Linked DNA regions of Homo sapiens: region 2 is linked to region 1. The links come from fine-mapping of genetic effects on gene expression. Tissue or cell type: lymphoblastoid cells. Region 1 holds a variant in brackets; the other region holds the start of a gene. All regions are shown on one strand. Distances are from middle to middle.

Region 1 (6,554 bases):
CATGTGCTTTATTACTTGCCACAATCAATCTTTCATACAAACTGAGAAGCAGGGAGGAAAATCAAACAACACTGAGGCATCTGACTTCAACTCACTGTTTCTCCCTCTACCGTGACACTCACAGCCTGTGTTATACTGACGATGAATCGCCTCTGACTTCAACTCACTGTTTCCTTCTCTATCATGATACTCACAGCCTCTGTGTTATATGCAGAAGATGAATCAAAGAAAAATTGAACTTGAGTGCACTTAAGGAGGTCACAGTCAGTCTATTCAGGGAACAACTATTATGTAAATGTGATTTGAAGTTGAATTTTTAAATAGTTACAAAATAAATAAGGGCAATAGACACAAAATATATCTGGCCGTTCTGAAATAATCCATAATAGCTGTTTCCACATTTTCTCTGAAAGAAATTAAAACTTTCCAACTTTTCAACTTCTGACATATTAAATGTTAAATTTTGAGAGCCCTTGCCAAGAATAAGGACATAATAACTCCTCTTTCTGGGAAGACTTTAGCTGTGATTATGATGCAGGGACATTTTGGAATGAATTTACAAGTTTCAAATATATTTTGTATTCTTGTAGTAATTACAAAAAGTATTTAAGACATTCAACTCACCAAAACTTCCAACATTCTGGGATGCTTCGGTGCTTTAATATAAATATCCAACAAATCTGAGACACATTTTATGTACATATGTATATATATGAATAGATGATGATGATAGATAGATAGATAGATAATGTGTATCAAACACTACCCCTACTGGCAAATGGTGGCTGAGATCTGTGTACAATTTAAAAACATTCCAATAAACTGCAAAACACACCTGCTGACCTCGTCCATTATTTGTGGCCAAAGTGAAGCAAGGACCAGAGGAGCGACCAGCACATGTGAAGACCTAAAAGGTGTTTGCTCAGTAAATTGAGGGGGAGCAGGAGGGCAGGGAGATGCGGGGTTTCCTAAGAAATCTCTGCTGCTCTTTAGGAAATGGCCATCACTATCATTAAGCCACTATCATTAAGCCACTATCAACAGCTCAACCAGGACACGGGACAGATAAGGGAACACTATCCACACACAGTGAACTGGCCCCCTGTTCATTCTTCTTCTGTACCCGCTTGTTTGACTTTCATGTAAATTGCTTAATGCATGTTTAACTTGGGGATTTATTGTAAGTATAAATGGAGTCAAATCTTTATTTGAAGCATACAGCATCCCAGGAATTGTTCTAATACTAATACTAAAATTAATACTTTACATTTCTTCTTTCCCAAGAGCCTATGAGTTACTTCCTATTATTTTCTCTCTTTACATATTAAAAAATGCAGGTTCTCAGGGTACCTGCCTAATATCACACACCTAACCTGAGATAGAACGCACGTCTCAGCCCGAGAGAGAGAGCCAGCGCACGTAACTCTGCCTGATTCCTCTCAGGGACACCATCCTCCCTCTGCAGTCTACACTTTGGATTTAGGCCACTGTCTGTGGGTTTCATCAAAGAAACATAAAATGATTGAGACATTGTTTCTAGTGTTTTGTAACCCTCAGAAATCATCCCCTCTCAAAAGAAAATCAGTCACTTTTCCTCTATAAAACTTCAGTGACAGGAAAATAAATACATCATTGTATGAAAATCTAAAACTATAGAATATATATTATTATGTCCATAAATAATTGGAAATTAAAAATCTATTTACCATTATGTCACAGTAAATAAGTGTTGTATAGAAGTTATAAGAAAGAATAACATTTGCTTTTCTCCATTAAAAACAGATGATAAAGAAAAAATGAGGAAATGCTGTGAAGAACTAATAGAACGTTTCAGAAGCAGAACAAGTCGAGAGCAGTGATGACCCTTTTCTTCCTGCTAGTACCTCCTGTCTGTCTGGCTGAACTCACCATCAGATGATGTCTTGAACCTCACCTAGATGGGCTGGTGGTGTGTGGCCAGGTTAAGAGCACCAACAGGAGTAAGAAAGTGACCTGCCTGGTTTTACCGTGTGCACTAGGGGAGGGGTTGAAAGCTTTCGGTTGATACATCACCTCTGGGAGTTGAAGAAGAATGCAATTAAGAGAGCTAAAGAAGTCAGTAGGTATCTCTCCTGAACAATTCTGGTTTTCTTCTAATAGCTTTTACAATTTTTACCTCTGTTATGAAATGCAAACTTTTAACCAATATTAGTAATAGTAATCTCAAATCTCATCATCATCAAAATCTTATTTATGAAATGTAGGAGTTAGTTCATATACAGCCTTAGCCTTTTCCACATTATAAAATATATTCCATATATATGTGTGATCTTCATTTAATATTCAAGTAAATGTTGTAAGATATTGTTATTTTTATTCTAACATTTCACAGGTATAGAATCTGAAACTCAGAGGTCAACTGATGTGTCAAAGATACCTCCACAAATCAGTACCTTGATTAAAACTAAAATTGGAGTCATCTTCATATCTTCATCTTTCTCCCTCTTCATTAGGACCGATTGTAGTCTGTTTCCCTCTCACTCACTTGCAATCTTTATTGCTTTAGTGTTGCATTTGATTTTTATCTTTGTTTTTGTTTTAAATACTGTCATTAAAGTCATAGAAAAATCTAAAGTAAAACTGGTTGAATAAAAATTTTAAAATCGACTCTAATGTAATAAACCAGACAAAAATGATACTTTACATGTTATATCTTCCCTTTAAACTACAAATATTCATTGAGTGTATACCCTGTATTAGGCTGTTGGAATAAAACAGGGAAGAAGACAGAAGAAACTGCACCGCCATCTTAGATCTTGCAGCCAAATTCCTCTGAACTTTTCTCTAAAGACGTGCTCTGGAAAAATGTTGATCATTTTCCTACATCATGGAGGTCTTTTCATGACCACCTTTGTCTAGACAATGTCCTGTTTTTAGGTGCACGTTTGAGGGCTGGAGTCTCTGACCCACAGTGCTGCAGCCTGCACGTGGTTTGTCCTGACTTCTTTGCTACTTCACTTTTCGTAAGGCTCTGAGAGTGCAGGCCCTTGTGGGTGGACACTGCAGGGTGAGAGGAAGAAGTAAACTACTTTTTTCCGTTTCTGATGGGGGTGTGGGTCAGCAGCTATAAGCAACAGGGACCATGGGGGGCCTCAGACTTCAGCACCTGAGAGGCAGTTTCAGTCGTATTGGGGAGATGCAGGCATCTGGGTTGCTGCACATCACCAGGGCAGGGTTCTCTCAGCAGCCCTGGAGTGCAGAGTTCCCATCAGCTCAGCAGTGAGGGGCACATGGGGCTCCAGTGGTGAGGACTCTTGGTCCTTGGATGACAACACTCCCCTGCCCACTTCTCCAGCCTTCCCTGTAACCCTTTGCCACCTCTAACCAATCTTCTGTGTTACATCTCTTCGGTTTGCAATATGTAGTGTTCGTATATGACTGGACAGTATCTACTGGAGTTAATATCTATCAGAGTAATTATATCACAATTGCAATCTTCTCCTAAGAGTGAATAGTGACATTAAAAATTTCAACATTATAAATTATGCAGAAATAAAACTAATTATACAAAAAATACACTCTGAATGTCAGTTTTTCCCTGAGACAATCTACCATTTGATATACGGTGATTCACACTTCTTAATATACAACATTGAATTACTTTTCCAAAAGCCTCTTCAAATTTTGCTGCAGAATTAAACTTCACTTGCACCAGCTCTGAATTATGTGTGCTTTTCCTTCTTGGTCAATTTCATAGGTGTATCATTATTTGTCTTTTTTAATTAATATGTTTATATAACTTTTCATGTTTATCCATGTAACTACTGCTTCTATTGAAATGTTTTCTTCATAAATATAAATGTGTTTTTGGTATGAAAATAATAACTGGCCAGATGCGGTGGCTCACACCTGTAATCCCAGCACTTTGAGAGGCCGAGGTGGGTGGATCACCTGGGGTCAGGAGTTCGGGACCAGCCTGGCCAGCATGGTGAAACCCCATCTCTACTAAAACTACAAAATTAGCTGGTGTGGTAGCAC[G/A]TGCCTGTAATCCAAGCTACTTGGGAGGCTGAGACAGGAGACTCAGTCAAACCTAGGAGGCAGAAGTTGCAGTGAGCCAAGATCACGCTATTGCACTCCAGCCTGGGCAAAAAGAGTGAAACTCTGTCTCAAAAAGAAAAGAAAAAAAATAGTAACTCTTTGTGAATAGTATCAACTAAAATATTTTTATTTCAGTTTCATTCTGATATTTTGTGTCATCAGAATTTTTTAAAGTATTTTGTTTAATATATTAACTTTAATAATTTCGTTAACTGTTTTGTGCTTACAAAGTCTTTATGCATTTGGGGATTATGTAAAGCATCTACCTTTACACTTTTAATGAGTTTCAGAGGTTTTTTTGGTACCTTTGAGTTATAATACAAAAATAATTTATTTGGGTGTGATATGCAGTGAATTGCTAACATTATTGCTTTTAAGTTAAAATTAAATTCCAATGTTGAATGGTATTTTCTTTTATTCATTAATTTCAAAAATAATTAGTAACTGTTTGTTCCAGGCACTATCTAGGTTTATGATGTTTGAAACAAAGATTCTTCCCACACAGCATTTATATACTAGTGGTAAATACAGGCAATAAACTAATAAATATGTAATGAAATGTCAAGTATTAATAATCACAGTAAATAAAAAATAAAGGCAGAGAGATGAGATAGGAATGATTAGCGAATCTATTTAACACAGGCTAGTTAGGAGCCCTTTATTTAGAAGGTGAAATTTCATCAGATCCGTAAATGAAACAATGGAGTCACTCGTAAACAACGGGGCAGAGATGCTTTAAGCAGAGGAAACAGAGAAAGTTAAAAGCTGTGAGACTGAAAGTAACTTGCAACGTTTGAACAGCAGCAAGAAGATCTGTGGCCCCAGACTGAGGTGAGAAAGTTGGCAAAACAGAAAATGGGGTTAGAAGTGGAACCAAGGAACCGGTCCTATAAAATCATGATGGTCCTGAGAAGGACCAGGGACAGGCAGAGGTGTGTTTAAGAAAGGGAAGACAAAAGTATACACGGCACTCAAGAGAGTGCATGTGCACTTAGAAAAAGAAAGGAAGTCTCAGCCAATGTTTGGCCCCTGTCTTCTAAGAACTCTTCAGGAAGTTTACCAGGCATGCTCACAGTCTGTTCTGACTGTAGCCTGGCTTCCCCTCCCCACCCCACCCCACCATACAACTCCCAGCAACAGACAGCACTCAGAGAATCTCCAGAGAGTGAAGGGCCCCAAAGCTTTGACTCTCCTTGCTTCTCGGTGAATCCCACTCTGAGATATCACTGGAGGACGGACAGAGAGGAAAGACATTTGGAACAGGTATATGATTATCACTGAGAAGGCTTGAGCGAGAATGCAGGAAAGGGTTTGAGCTAGTCCTGATGAGACATATGGTGTCTGGGCAAGGGGTGTGGTGGAGGAGGTGAAGTTGGATTGCCGTTTATACACACAGGAATATTGGGGCTGGGCAGGTTGGCATGGAACGCTGAAACTGAAATTTGGGACTCCAGTTGCCCAGTACACATCTACATGAAGATGATGCAAGGCTAGTGTATACACGAATCCAGAGGTCATAAGAGAAGGCAGTCCTGAAATCATGGTTTTGAGAACCAGGGTGTGTGGAGGAAACAACGGGATCACACAAGGAAGGAGGGTCAACATCTTATACCAGAAGCCAGTGCAGGGGAGGCTAGGTTTCCACATTATCTCTTCTTTTCCATTGGTCTTTCACTGAATTCCTTTAAAATATCTTGTTTTATTGGGTGTCCCCTCATGATAATTTTAAACAACTAGTGAAACAATTCTTGTCTTCATGTATGTTCATGTTCAAAATAAGCAAGTTTTTAAGTTTGTTTTTCCTTTCAGTTGATCTATTTGGCTAGGTTCAAAAGTTCTAACTAATTGTATTGATTAGAATACAATGAAATACATTTGGGAAGAATTGATATTGTTAAAATGTTGCAGATTTTTATAAACAAGCACAATAGGTCTCACAGAGATATCCAAATACTTAGAGGTCGGGTCTGGATTTTAAAGTAATTTTAATAAAATTCTTCCACAATAATTGAGATTCTGAGATTTTTATAATTTAATTTTTTGGAGAATATTTTTCATTTAAAAATACTTAAAAAGCATTAACAGTGACAGAAAAGCTATTGATATATATTTTTTCAACATTAATATTTATGGTGGAAACCCTGCTTAAAGTTCTACTTTTTTTACATTTTAAATGTAAACTGAGAAAATATTTATAAAAACAAAAATAACATTTTAAGAATTAAACTATAAATATATAAAACATGTCAAACATTTTGTAAATGATCCTGAAGGCACCATCAGAGATATAAAGAAATGCAAGATACATGCACAGAACAAAGGAAGAGGGGCCACCACCTTTATGGACTGGAGGTCAGGATATCAAGCCAAAGAGGACCTCAAGTCCTGAAATCTAACGAAACTTGCCCTGCCAGGCTCAAGTTTGCTTTGGCTCTAAGACTTCTATTTAACTTCCAATTTCTCTTTTTCAGAATAGG
Region 2 (8,108 bases), 24 kb before region 1:
CATCAGCAAGTATCAGTTAACAAAGCAAATGGGTTTCACAGGAACCAACTCCCCCCTTCTCACGATTTGTAATTTCTCACATCCCTGACCCTCCTGAGCCCCCACTAACTCCCATTTCTCTTTCCTCAAACTCCCTTTAACATTTTCCTCAACCTGGATACATCAAAGTTAAGTTCATGCTGAACTCTTGCCTGTTTCAATAGTATATGACTAGTTAAAGCACGTTCTTACCTCTTTAACCAGTTTTCCATTTTGTTTGTCTTGACAGTTATCTGGCACTGGAACTCAAATCCAGATTGGAACCCTTATCTGGCCCTTGGACAAAACAGTCAATCCTTTCTGCATGCGTAGAAACCTTTGTCTGATCTTCAGTTGACTTACTTTTTTGGGTATTTGGTGGCGAGTTCAACTTCTGGCCTAACACTGTGTAGAAATTTGCACTGAGGCATGGCGAGGACATATTTTCTTCCTATGTTTCTGGCTGTAGTCTCTAAGGCTGGGTTATAATTCCAGGCTGCTTTTGAAAGACATCTCCTGGGCTGGCTGTTTATCTTCCTGGCTCCCTGTTTTCAGTGGGAATTCACTTCCTAACTCCTGTGCTGGAATGTTCACTCTGGCTTCTTGTGAGACCTCTTCATTCTATTTGAACTTACTCTTCCCACAGGAACTCCACAGTTAAACCCCTTTTGGGTTCCTACTCTCTATATATACTATGACACTAACCATGTCTGCTTCTATTTTAGGCAAAATGACTTTACTGTGGATAATTCGGAACTGCAATGGTTTATTTGAAAATCTTAAGATCTGCCTAAAGTGGCTCTTATAGGACTGCTCCCTTCCCATTTCCTTCTTTTTTCCTTCTTTCTTTTACCATCTTAACTTTTTCCATTGAACTCCCCTGACACTTTGATATGCACCTCTTTTCCATTAAACACCCCTGACTTTTGATATATACCCATCCTTTTACCCCTACCAGATGTTTCACTTACCTCTTTAGCCCCTCGACTCCCTATAGTCACTGGAACGTATGCCTCCTGATTCACAGGGGGTTCTCGAGAGACTGATGCACACACAAAGCAACACACGGGGCTTCCTGGAAACAGAGATATAATCTACAGCCTGTGTAAGATTACATTTTAGGTGAAAAACCCACAAATACCCCAAAATATGTTACTAATTAAAATCTGTCCTCACTACCTTAACCAGTGTCTGGGCTTTACCTTTGAAACTGGTGTCCTTATTTAAAAAAAGTTGGACATGCACCCAGGAATATTATCTTTTGAAGATAAAGGAATAGATTGAAGTAATGCTACTTCAAGCCAAGGAATGCCAAAGGTTGTCATCAAACTACCAGAATGCTATGGTACGCATAGCAAATGAATACATCAGCTTTCAACAACATCATCAAAAATTACAAGTCATGGTAGCAGGCAAAAAATATGCTTTAAAAAGAAAAACAAAATTAGAAAAGGACTTGGACATGGCAAGCCAATCATGTGATTTCTTGATGTTTCTTCTGTGTTTTCTGCCTAGAAAAACCCACTGCACTCACTGCTGGGTGGATCTATCTGAACCTCTTATGGCTCTGAGTGCCATCTGAAAAAGATGATGGTTCCCTTTACCTTGAGTCGTTTTCCCCAGATACACTAGAACCCATTATTTCAGTTCTTTTAGGTCTCTTCTGTGCTATTCGATTATCAGAAAAGATTTCAATGACCAATGAATAAAAATGACTGATCTGTCCCTTATGCTGTCTTATTTTTCTTCATAAAATTAACAATCTTGAACATATTTTTTACAATTGTTTCTCTTTTCCACAATATAGTGTCATATTAATAAGATGAGACATTTTGCTCATTTTTATCACTGCTGTGTGCTGAAAGCCTAACACAGTGGTAGCCCCAAAGTAGATGCTCAAAAATAAATATGCTCTGAATGAGTATATTTAGTCATTTCCTGGAAGGAGAGGCTGGGTCAAACAGAGTGCTAAGGACTCAGAATCCTTACTGCTAGAATGACAATGAAATGACAGCATCATGTTAGTGGCACATTTAAAATGAAACAGTATCAATATTGAAAATATTTGTAAGGCTTATTTGAAAAAAGAAAATCATAACACATTTACCTATAATTCAGAAATTTAAATTTCTAGATAATTTCTAAGATTAAGGTTTTTTAATTTCTTAAACTTTTAGATAACCATTTTAAAGAATATATATTGTATATATCTCTGTTATTAAAAAGTAATTGAAAGTAATTACTTCATATTATATTAAGGCATTATAGCTATAAATATGGTGTAAACTGTAATGGTTATTCTGCCCTTTCTTCTCTTGCTACCTCCTGCCATCCTAAGAGAAGTTGCCTTAAGCAGAATTGTCTCATCCCGATCCCCAGAATCACTCTATCCACTCACACATTATCTTTCCCAAGCTTGAGGAAAAAATAACAGAGTGAGAGACGAAGATTATGTATTATTATTGCGACTCTTGGTGTTTGCAAAATTCCAAAATACTGAGATATGGCTAAATAAAATTCTATGCAACTTCTTTTGAATGCATGAATGTATATATTTATGTAAGTTTTATTTTGTTTACATTTTGTTTTGGTAATTAGAGTTTTATTTCCCTTGGTGACAGAACTTTCTGTTGTCTTTCAGATGAGTATATTTTTGATTTTGATTTAAATATAATTTCCCAAAATAAACATTTTTGACTTATACCTATTTTATGTTTTTTATGATGTCAAGTCCATGGCATTTGTTCAGGGCGAGACTTTAATGACTGAACTTCATGATTATCTTTCTACTTGCCAAACACTTCATTTATCTTTCCCATTATTCAAGAGCTGCTATATCCTTGAGTTTGATATTCTTTATCTGGAATTCAATGCAAAGCTCTGCTAAGTGGTCATGATGATCCAAGAGTGGATGTTAGAATTCTAGGATGCCACAGGTCTTTCTCTTTCCATAAATCTTAAAGTCTGTAGGTTTATGAAAGACAGTTTTGTCACAGCCAGTTAGATTCATGGGTTAGCATTGTGGTGTAAGGAGGTGAATATAATGAATGAACTCAGCAATGAACAGGTTTTCTGATGCCAGAAGAAGTTTTCCCTGCGTGTTCTATAGGTCTTGTGCCGTGTATCAAGTATTTCTTCTCTTGATCTACTGTGCAATGGGTATAAGGTTTCAGTGACACAAGATGAAGTCCTAGAGATTGGCTGTGCAGCACCGTGCCTGGAGTTCACAGTACTGAATCGTGCACTGAAAAAGTGTAAGAGGGTAAATTTCCTGTTAAGTGCTCTCACCACACTAAATAAATAAAATTTATCATGAGCCAGGCACTGAACTAAGCTCAGGATATATTATGATGAACAAATTTAGACATGACAAACGATCTCAATAAAACTTAAAATGTTTTGCTACAATAATCACCTGGAAAAAAAAGTCAGTCTTCTCTACAGTATAATGTGGATGGACACAAATGAGTGGTTTTAAGATTATGTTTCCTTCCCTTGTTTTTAAAAAACATTTATAATAAGTAAAATTCTTCAACAAGAGCAAAATCATATCAGTTTCTAGTATCAGTGTTTGCCAAAGACTGCTCTTTAAAATAAAGGGATCACCTCAGTCCAATCTACTTGACATGATCCTACCTTGTCAGACAAGCTAGTCAAGATTTGGAAAAGGCAACTACATTTCAATCCTTTGAAAATCTACATAATCCTAAGCACAGACTTATCAGGATTGGTAATGGGTCAAGTTTAGGGACACGTTACAATTACAATGTAATTTTTGGCTGTAGTTGATCAGCAAGTTTACATCCATATATTCATCCAAGTTGCTCTTCCTCAAAAAAATTAATATGTTGACATTTCTACCTGCAAGATTTGTGATTCATGTTTTAATTATTACAATTTTCATATAACATGTTTTAGAATACCTGATATTGTGGGTGATCTCAATTTCTTCCTGGGTGATCTTTCCTGGTTTAATATTTGTATGATTCCAATGATAAATCTCAGATAATATAAATAGCAAAAAATTAAAATACTGAGAAAATAATATACAACTTATTAGGGGAGAAAGAGGAAGAGATGCTCCCTTAGTGGCACACAGAAGGTGGGATGCCTGGTCTGCTTTTTCTATATTTTTGCATATTTGGGGTTCAGAAAACTGAAACCCATAGAGTCACCATATGCTACATACACTGAACCTAAAGTAATAAGTAGTTCTGAAAGAGAACAGAGGAGAAGAGGGACTCCCTACAGGGATAAATGGTCCAGACTTAAGGTATGGCTTATTTATGCTTTCAACACCCCAGGGACTACAATCCCAGCTGACCAATTAAACTTCGAGAGTTTCAGTGGAGATTTAAGGTCCTGGGATTACTTCTGGAAAAAAATTAAAAAGCTTACCGTGCAATTGGCCCAATACTCAAACCAAAATCTAATGGACAGAAAATATACAATTTACAAACTTGTGCTTTTTTTAAATGTTAATTAAAAATATGTTTATTAAACCCACAGATTTTTTTAGTTGGAAATTTTAAAATTAAATTTGATTAATGAAAAAATAAAATATAAGGAAAAATGACATTTGGAAGCAAAATGAAGAATTTCAGAAGAAAGAAAACATTCAACTAAATGATCTTTTGAACATATTGAATTCAGTTTGCTAGTGTTGAGAATCTTTACATCCATGATCATAAAATAAATTGGCCTGTAATTTTCTTATACCGTCCTTGTCTGACATTGGTGTTAGGGTAATGCATGAAAAAATGTGTTGGAAAGTGCACCCTTTTTAATTGTTTGGAAAAGTTTGAGAATAGCATTAATCTGTCTTTAGATATTTGGTAGCAATCACCAGTAAAAGCATCAAGTCCTGAACTTTTAAGTTTATTATTATTATTATTGGTGATTTAATCTCTGTACTAGTTATTAATTTGTTCAGGTTTATTCTTTCTTCAGGACATACATGTCTAAGAATTTATCCATTTCTTCTACGTTACTCAATTTATTGACATAATTGGTCATGATAATCTCTTATGACCCTTTGTATTTTGGTAGTATTGACTAATTTCTCCTGCTTTACTTATAGTTTTATTTGAGTCATCTCTCTTAGTTTTCTTGGTTTGTCTACCTAAAGGTTTGCCAATTTTCCTCACGTTTTTACAGAACCAACTCCTCGTGTTACTGATCTTTTCTTTTGTCTTTCTTATCTGTTTAATTCTGCTCTAACCTTTATAACTTTCTTCTTTCTTCTAACTTTTGGCTTTTTTCTTCTTTTCTAATTCCCAGAGTGCCAAGTTAGGTTGCTTATTTGGGATCATTTCTCTCTCTGTCTCAGTAGCTATCAGAACTACTTTTGCTGTACCCCATGATTTGGTATGTTATTTGTCCATTTTTGTTTGTCTCAGGATATTTTTAAATTGTCTTTATTTTTGGGTCCATTTGTTGTTTATGAGTGTTGAGAGTGGGGTATTATAATCCCCTACTATTATCATATTGCTGTTTATTTCTTTTTTGTGTTCTGCTCATGTCTGCTCCATCCATTTTGGTGTTCCAATGTTTCCTGGGCCTATATTGAGGCACCCTAACTAATAACACTTTGCACATCAATTCATCTCATTTCTCACAAAAGCAAACAGAACAAAACTGTTCAAACATACATAAGGGAGTCCTAGTTGCTGATACAAACTTTTAGATAGTCTTCCAATCTTTTTATCCTACTTTAATTCTCCAATGATATAATAAACATCCAAGACAAAAAAAATGAAAAAAGCACAAATGATTCCTTCACTGAAATCAGGAGACAAAGGCAATCCATCAACTATAAATTACATGTAAGGAAGGGGAAGAAAGTCACGGACACTCATCAGAATTGGTACAGAAACTCCATATTGGAAGCAGGAAGTCCGGCAGAGAAGAGACCCAGTCAAGGTCACTGGTGGTGGTAATGATAAAAAATACCAGGAAATATTATTCCCCAAGAAGGAGAGGGTCCTCTCACAAGTGTAAACTGCTATACCCAAGCCTGATGAACACGGAGCCAGGTAGCAATCTGAGGATTATTGAAGAGATAGATGCAGGGAGTATACCTGGGAAAGAAGTGGTGGAGATAACAGGACAATCTTGCCTAAACTAAGGGGGTCACCATCCCAGGCATAACCACGAATAGGAAGGTGGTAGAAATGAACATGGAGAAGACAGCAGGAATGCATACAATGAAGCTGTAGGGCTTGAGAAACAAGAATATTCCCCAATGCCTGCAAGCCCTATGCAATCCACCTGGTAACAACTGGAAAGGCAAATCAAATTCTTAAAAATGAAATTAGAAAATGCAACGTCTTTCCAAAAATACTATAGAAAAAAAATAAATCTACCCCAAAATTATTGCCTTAAATCGGAGCTAAATACTGATATAAACTTCAAATACTCTACAACCCCAAATCCTTAATAAAGCAGTTTTATAAATGAGAAAACATTTTAAAACAGAAATATGACGGTTCAGAGAACTGATGACCCACTAAAAAGAGACGACAATCGGCCAACAGAAAGATGTGAAATGGGAATCACCCTGAGTCAGGAGAGAATTTAAAGGGAGTGATGGGGACGAAGCTGAATGGCTGCTCCGTGGCTTGTGAGTGATTGTAAAATAATAAAGATGATGGAGAAAATATAAAAGCAAGTGTAAAGAAATAGTGATAAGCACTAGTGTAAACATATTGGCTACAATTGAATGATGAAGGAAAGGAGAATAGACATATCTTCTGAAATATTTTCTGTTCTTCCTTATGCTAGGAAACTAGTAGATACTGTGTAAAGAGAGGGAAATTAAGGATATTTTAGTCTTATAAAATATGTTTTATGCATAGGTATTTGTACATAATATACACATTTTGTTAAATAGAAAATATTAAATACCACACAATGAAATAATTTTGAAATAAAGGCAAAGAGTTGATTTTGTCTTCTTACTGCAAAGAATTATAAGTATGTGAGGTGATGCATATGTTAATTACCTCAATTTACCCATTCCACACAATATACATATTTTAAAATATCACATTGTACATGATAAATATATACAATTTTATTTGTTCATCACAAAAATTTAAAAATGGCAATTAAAATAAAGGTAATAACAAAGTGTGAGGGAATATGATTAAACTAATGGGGTATATCAATAAACACAATGCATTTAATACACTGAATAAAGAAAAAAAGATTACTATTCTCTCTGCCTGGTGGTCTCTTTTCCGATACGTTGTGACCCATTTCTTCAACTGATTTAGGTCTCTCTTCTCTGCTCTCTTGATTATCAGAGAAGACATCTCTGAGCAGTGAATATAAAACAGTAATTATCTCCTACACACCCTATTTTACTCTTCTTTATAATGTTTATCATTCCTGATAGTTTTTTTGCGATTATTATCTCTTCTCTACCATAGAATGTAAGATCCAGGAGATAAAGCATTTTACCATTTTTATCACTAGTGTCTTTCCAATGCCTAAAATATAGCACCTATTCCAAAACAGACGCTCAAAAATAAATGTTTCTTGAGTCAATGCATTTATTCATTTTTGAGGAGGAGAGATTGGGTTAAACAAGAGGGTTAAAAACTCAGAATAGAATGACAACCAAACGAGAGCATAGTCAGTATTAATACAGAAAATATTTACAAGACCTACTTGAAAGAAGATATAGTTGTAACACATTTTCCATGATTGTTGAGAAATTTATATTTCTGGGTACATTAACTTCTTAGGCAACTAGAGCTTACTTGTTTAATTCTTTAAGCTTAATAAATTTTAAAGTATGGAGTACAATATGCCAAGTGAAACAAGTCAGGCACAGAAAGAAAAATGCAGCATGAGCTCATTTATGTGTAAAATAAATGGAAATTGAGTAAGATAAATAGGGAGTTGAAGGGCAGTTGCCAGAGTCAGGGAAGTAGACAAATTGGGATAATGTAGGTAAAAGAAGACAAAATTACAGTTATGTAACATAAAGATATTTAGAGATCTAATGTACAACAGAAGGACTATAGTTCTATTTTATTATACATTACAAATTTGCTAAGAGAATAACTAGATTATATGTGTTT

Alleles and levels. Alleles are on the strand shown, and positions count from the first base shown. SD is a standard deviation of normalised expression in the study named.
In carriers of allele A in region 1, the expression in lymphoblastoid cells of the gene that starts at base 4,298 in region 2 tends to be higher than with G alone (moderate effect, 0.62 SD a copy in GTEx).

What was found. PIP is the estimated chance that this variant, and not a neighbour inherited with it, causes the effect.
Region 2: OR2G6 starts here. The variant in region 1 is the best candidate, but not a certain one, in a credible set for the expression of OR2G6 in lymphoblastoid cells (GTEx, PIP 0.59).

The regions. Positions count from the first base shown.
Region 1 is chr1:248,480,713-248,487,266 of GRCh38, reverse strand. LOC105373279 (a long non-coding RNA gene) reads left to right here and starts at 5,206. Exons shown (of 3, transcript XR_007067006.1): 1 at 5,206-5,340. It overlaps LOC105373277 (a long non-coding RNA gene), which reads left to right. Exons shown (of 3, transcript XR_002958498.2): 3 at 1,783-2,646. The variant G/A (reference allele first, on the strand shown) is at 4,018.
Region 2 is chr1:248,504,263-248,512,370 of GRCh38, reverse strand. It overlaps OR2G6 (olfactory receptor family 2 subfamily G member 6), which reads right to left and starts at 4,298. Exons shown (of 2, transcript NM_001013355.2): 1 at 3,942-4,298. All of the region lies in intron 1 of LOC105373277 (a long non-coding RNA gene), which reads left to right.